Linked DNA regions of Homo sapiens. The protein of the gene in region 2 purifies or fractionates together with the protein of the main gene of each other region. This does not show direct contact. Each region holds a gene or a part of one and is shown on either strand. Other genes may lie near its edges.

Region 1 (3,834 bases), on a different chromosome or scaffold from region 2:
ATCTCTACCAAAAAAATACAAAAATTAGGCCTGGCGCGGTGGCTCATGCCTGTAATCCCAGCGCTTTGGGAAGCTGAGGTGGGTGGATCATGAGGTCAGGATATCGAGACCATTCTGGCTAACACAGTGAAACCCCATCTCTACTAAAAAATACAAAAAATTAGCCGGGCATAGTGGTGGGCGCCTGTAGTCCCAGCTACTCGGGAGGCTGAGGCAGGAGAATGGTGTGAACCCAGGAGGCGGAGCTTGCAGTGAGCGGAGATCGTGCCACTGCACTCCAGCCTGTGTGACAGAGCGAGACTCCATTTCAAAAAAAAAAAAAAAAAATTAGCTGGGCGTGGTGGTGCACGTCTGTAATCCCAGCTACTCAGGAGGCTGAGGCAGGAGAATTGCTTAAACCCAGGAGGCAGAGGTTGCAGTAAGCCAAGATTGTGCCACTGCACTCCAGCCTGGGTGACACAGTGAGACTCTGTCTCCCAGAAAAATAAAATAAAATAAAATAAATAATTAATTCAGTATAAATTTAATAAAATATGTGCAAGACCTGTACGTAAAGCAATAAAATACTGCTGATAAAATGAACAAGACCTAAATTGCCCATTGACTAGAAGACTTAATATTGTTAAGACATCACTTATCCCTAAATTTTTTGTTTTCTTTAAGATGGAAGCTTACTCTGTTGCCCAGGCTGGAGTGCAGTGGCACGATCTTGGTTCATTGCAACCTCAGCCTCGCGGGTTCAAGTGATTCTCCTGTCTCAGCCTCCTGAGTAGCTGGGATTACAGGTACCCACTACCACACCTGGCTAATTTTTGTATTTTTAGTAGAGACAGGGTTTCCCATGTTGCCCAGGCTGGTCTCGAACACCTGACCTTAAGTGATCCACCCGCCTCGGCCTCCCAAAGTGCTGGAATTACAGGTGTGAGCCACCATGCCTGGCCCCTAAATTGATGGGAATCTGATTCAATGTGGATGTGAAATAGATTCCCATTGTGAATCTATGTGAAACAGATTCAATGTGATCCCAATTAAAATCCAAGCAGGGATTTTAATAGAAATTGTCAGGTTCATTCCAAAGTTTATATGTAAAAGCAAAGGACCTAGAATAGCTAAAACAATTTTTTACAGGTTGGAGATCTTGGCTGGGCACGGTGGCTCATGCCTGTAATCCCAGCACTTTGGGAGGCTGAGGCGGGTGGATCATGAGGTCGGGAGATCCAGACCATCCTGGCTAACACGGTGAAACCCCGTCTCTACTAAAAATACAAAAAATTAGCAGGGCATGGTGGCAGGCACCTGTAGTCCCAGCTATTTAGGAGGCTGAGGCAGGAGAATGGCGTGAACCCGGGAGGTGGAGCTGGCAGCGAGCCAGATTGAGCCACCACACCCTAGCCTGGGTGACAGAGTGAGACTCTGTCTCAAAAAAAAAAAAAAAAAAAAAAAGTTGGAGATCTTATGCTATGTAATTTAAAGACACTGTGGTATTGGCATAAGGGTGGACATATTAATGAGGGTAACAGAGTACAGTCCAGACATAGATCCCATAGATACAGTCAATTGATTTTTTTTTCTTGAGGCAAGGTCTCTCTCTGTTGCCCAGGTTGGAGTGCAGTGGCCAGATCTTGGCTCACTGCCGCCTGGACATCCTGGGCTCAAGTGATCTGCCCACCTCAGCCTCCTGAGTAGCTGGGACTACATGTGTGTGTCATCACATCTGGCAATTCTTAAAATTTTTTTGTAGAGACAAAGTCTCCCTGTACTGCCTAGGCTGGTTTCAAAATCCTGGGCTCAAGCGATCCGCCTGCCTTGGCTTCCCAATGTGCTGGAATTATAGGTGCGAGCCACCACCCACATTGAGTGTCAAAAATCACTCAATGGATTTTTGACAACATTATTAAGGTAATTCAACGGAGGTACAATAATTTTTTAATAAATGGTGCTGGAGCAACTGGATGCACATATGTAAAAATACTAATCTTCATCCTTACTTCATATGACACAAAAATGAACTCAAAACAGATCACAGAATGTAAGAAGAACTATAAAAGCTTCTAAAAGAAAGCATAGAAGATAATCTTAGGGTGCAAAAAGGATACATTGTAAAATTTAAAAATTGCTAAATTGTGAATTCATCAAAATTTAAAACTCTCTGAAAGACATTATTCAGAAAATAAAAAGATAAGCCACACTGTGAGAAAAAACATTTGCAAACCTTAAAAAAAATTGTTTTAAATCCTTGCACAGGGCCATACTAACTTCTCTGTATTACAATTTTAGTATATATGTTTCTGAAGCAAGCACCACAAAACTTTTATCTGATAAAGGACTTACACTCAAAACAGGTGAATTTTACTATATATAAACGATAGCTCAATAAAGTCGATTTTAAAATTTTAATGTGGCTAGGTGTAGCGGCTCATGCCTGTAATTTTAACACTTTGGGAGGCCAAGGTGGGCAGATCACTTCACCTCAGGAATTTGAGACTAGCCCGGGCAACATGGCAAAACCCTGTCTCTACTAACAATATAAAAATTAGCTGGGCATGGTGGCCCATGCCTGTAGTCTCAGCTACTAGGGAGGCTGGAGTGGGAGGATTGCTTAAGCCTGGGAGATGGAGGTTGCTGTGAGCGCACCACTGCACTCCAGTCTGGGTGACAGAGTGAGACCCTGTCTCAAAACAAACCAAAAACTTTTAAAGTAGCCAGGCGTGGTGGCTCATGCCTGTAATCCCAGCACTTCGGGAGGCTGAGGCAGGTGGATCACGAGGTCAGGAGATCGAGACTATCTTGGCCAACATGGTGAAACCCCGTCTCTACTAAAAACACAAAAAGTAGCTGGGCTTGGTGGCGCGTGCCTGTAATCCCAGCTGCTTGGGAGGCTGAGGCAAGAGAATCACTTGAACCCGGGTGGCGGAGGCTGCAGTGAGCTGAGATCGCGCCACTGCACTCCAGCCTGGCAACACAGCAAGACACCGTCTCAAAAACAAAACAAAAACCAAAAAAAACCCTTTAAAGTAAAAAGCCATTTTTCATGATTCTCTAAGGAGAATACATTGAAAAGCAACATAGACACTTGATTCTCTAGGATACATTCTATCTAAATTACTTAATTCATCTTACCGGCCCCATGGATCCCTTAGCCCTTTTGCAGCCAGCTTCTTCTGGATAGTTTCTAATGGTGTCCCTTCTATCTTCCATTGTCTATAATCTGGAAGTTCCATTTTATGATGTCCATGCTCATGTCCATGTTCATGGGCCATGTCTGTAAGGAAAAGATTAACACAAGTGAGAAATATGCAAATTGTAGATATCAAATACCCAAATTTATTGTTTATGTTTTAAGGTAAAGCATTTAATATTAAAAAAAAAAGCCAATATAAATACTTGAAAATTCCAGTTAAAGGATTTTATAAAAGTGTCTTATTCTACAACCATGTTCACAGTTAGGAAATACACATACACAAAATATAAAAAAGAAAAATAATTGGCAATCTCATCACTCAGAGATAACCATTTACTATCTGGTTCTTTTCTTCATTATAATAATAGTAAACATTTGCTAAAATGCTTTATGTGTATTAACTCCAATACCTCTAAAACAACTCTTTATAAATAGTAAACATATGCTAAAATGCTTTATGTGTATTAACTCCATTACCTCTAAAACAACTCTTTGAACTTAAATAATGAGTATCCCCATTTTACAGATGAGGACAATGAGACTCCAAGCAATTAAGTAACTTTCCAAAGGTAACAAAAATAGTAATGGTACAGCTGGGATTAGAACCTTGCAGTTTGGTTTTAGAACCCTGCTCCTAACTTCTTCTTCTTCTT
Region 2 (3,045 bases):
GAGACTGGTCATCTTTCTTTTTCAATTGTTTCATCAAGAAGAATCTTTTTCAGGTGATAAAACTTACAAGCTAAATTAAAATGCACTCTACTCATTGGCAAGCTACATGAACAAGAATAATGTGATCACAGTACTTGGAAGTTTTTGATTTATAACTATACTATTCTCTACTTATAAGGCTGCAGTCTAGGAGGCAGAGCAATGAATCATTACAATTGTCTATCTGGGAAATGTCAAAAGATTAAGTAAGGGCAAAAGAAGAGAGAAAAGGAAAGAACACACATCTCTGTCCAAGAAATATTCCTCTATTAATGGAGGTATATCAGTAGCACATAAATCCAGTGCTAAATAAATAATAAGTACATTTTTAAAATCTTCAAGCAAAATCACTAATGAACCATAATGCTTAAACTTCCTTGGTGGAAAGCAGATGACCCTCTGAAGCTCTGATAACTAAATGATTCCTTATCCAACTATCATTTGGTAACCTACCCCTACATATTAAGCAATTTAAAAAGCAAATTTAAGTTGAGGAAATAATTAGATATTTGAACCAATCATGAATGGATCCAGCATTTTTGAAAAAGAACACATATAGTTTAATTGATACTTTGCCAATACAAAAATAAGCATCCACAGAATGTTTATTTACTGTTTAAATTACTCCATATTTTCATATACTGTGAACAGAAAATATATTTTACCCCACATATAGTAAAAGCAAACAAGTGCAATCTTTCAAACATTAAAATCATAATCAAATCTGTACAACAGATAAATAAATGTATACCTCTAACAGTTAGCTTGTAAAAAAAAATCAAACAAAAAGCAAAAACATTTATTGCCCAAATTCACCAGTTTACTTAAAATTCTACTTATGGTAATACAGCTCAATCGTAACAACTTGCATGTTTACTACACTGCACAAGTTTAGACTGATAAATATTTAAAATAGGAGGTGGGTAATAGGAAATACCAAATGGCTATAAAGAGCTTTCCAAATATTGGAAATAATATACGAAAATTAATTAGTGGGGATAACATATTAAATGGATCCACAGGGTAACTGGTATTACACTGGTATAGCTTGAGGAAAGGAAACAGGTGAACGTTTGGATTGGAAAAAAAATTTTGGCTTTTTTATAAAACGAAGCAACAATAACATCAACAATGACAAAACCCTGTCATGGAGCCTCAGAACTATTCTGTGAGACAAAGTGTACAAAGATTTAGGCTTGCATACCCGAAAACCACAGTTAGGAAGAAAAATCATTTCAGGAAACAACATCAGAACAAGAACACATATAAATTAAAGGCATACTGTTTATCATTCCACTTCATTGCACATATAAGAAAACAATACTGCCGTCATTCTTGAGTAAGAAAGTTTCCAATGAAAGAGGAAGTTCCACAATGAATACAGGTGCAGACAGTCTTATTACCACAAATTTAGTTATATCAAAACACTTGGTGGTGTCACTAAGTTAATTAAATTATCTATACTTTTTACTGGAAAGGTAATCATTTCCCTGCCTTCATATGTTAACTTAAAATCACTTACAAATGGAAATATAGATTCAGTAGAAAAGACTTCACATGCAATCCTATACAATGCATTCTGGTTTTTTGTTTGTTTGTTTGTTTTAGTATTTCATATTGGATATGTACATTTCCAATATATACAACCACATATGTTCAACAGATGTCACAGAACTGTCCTCTTGCCACAAACGTTTATATTTACATACACATTTATATCTCCAGATAGATGCTTTTCTCTTCTAGAGACACACAAAGGTAGCCTGAAGAGTTTAGGTTTTTTAGAATTTTTGGAACCTAATGTTTTGATTTATCTTGAATGGATGATAAGATGAGGAGTCCACAAAAAAATGCAGCTATACATGCCAACCTTTTCAAGAGAGATGAGTTATCTTTAGGAATAATAATCTGTGCAAGATCATTAGTGATCTGAGAAATTTCATGTGCCACACAAACAAATATGAAAGTGCTGACAATGATGTTGAGCATAGGGTTTCCAGGTATCAGTACCAAGATACCCCTTGTGTCCGCTGCCAGCCATATGTGATACTGGCAAATAAATAGCTAGGAGAAAAAATATTTAAGTCAGATATTTATAGAGGGTCCATGAATAAATTACAGTTTTCCCTAATTTAAACAATTTGGTTGCATAATAACATTAGAAGGCTTTCCTAAAACCATTTTATTCTGTCTCACTACTGGCCCTGAAAAGTCCACTGCAGTCTACTCCTTAGAACTCCAACTGCTAATACAATCTCTCTTATAAATGAGACCAAAGAAAATAATAGAACAATTATTCAAGAACTCAAAGAGGAATTTATTTTCCCTATTTTAAGAGACAATTTAATAAATCCTATACTCTAAAAACTCTAAAATATATGTTGTTATTACAATATAAATTGTTTTAAAACATTCTATTTCAAATAATAAAGCTTAGACTACTCAGAATACATTTTAAAACCTACTGTTCAAACTGATTTTGTAGATAATTTCATATTATGTATCTTACACAAAATGTAATGAGTTTATACTTTCTCCCACAATTTCCAATCATAATAAGGGTAAATTTTATTATGGTATGCATCAATAAACTGAATTCCAGTAATATATTTAATTATGGAGATGAACAAAAAATCAAAATCCCCTCAGTTTGATTTCATTTATATACCTGGTCTAATATTTTTCTCTCTTGGTCTCAGCATCTTGGTTGTGCTTGAAAGCTCAAGACAACGTAAATAATATTTTGCAAGTAATCTATATCTAGTCATTTAAAAATAAGGCTTAAAAACATTCCAAAATACTTTAGTATTGTTGAAAGTTCTAAGTCTTTTCCCTGTAATTCCATAATAGCTTCAGTTTAGAAAAAAGTACGTCCGATTTTCATACTCACATATATGTGTGATATTTACACACACACACGTACATACACAAACATGAAACACCTGGCTGTGTAAGATAAGCAAAATATTAATGTACCAACCTCTAATGAAATTTTTCCAAACCAAG

The links.
Region 1: the proteins of CASD1 (region 2) and NDUFB3 purify together in Homo sapiens (affinity purification with mass spectrometry; one large-scale study listed by BioGRID and IntAct). This does not show direct contact.

The regions. Positions count from the first base shown.
Region 1 is NC_000002.12:201,078,309-201,082,142, reverse strand, and holds part of NDUFB3 (NADH dehydrogenase [ubiquinone] 1 beta subcomplex subunit 3), read right to left. Parts: intron 3,263-3,834; 5' UTR 3,261-3,262; coding exon 3,121-3,260; intron 1-3,120. UniProt on the Homo sapiens protein: Accessory subunit of the mitochondrial membrane respiratory chain NADH dehydrogenase (Complex I), that is believed not to be involved in catalysis. Complex I functions in the transfer of electrons from NADH to the respiratory chain.
Region 2 is NC_000007.14:94,554,550-94,557,594, reverse strand, and holds the end of CASD1 (N-acetylneuraminate (7)9-O-acetyltransferase), read right to left. Parts: coding exon 3,020-3,045; intron 2,104-3,019; coding exon 1,837-2,103; 3' UTR 576-1,836; downstream 1-575.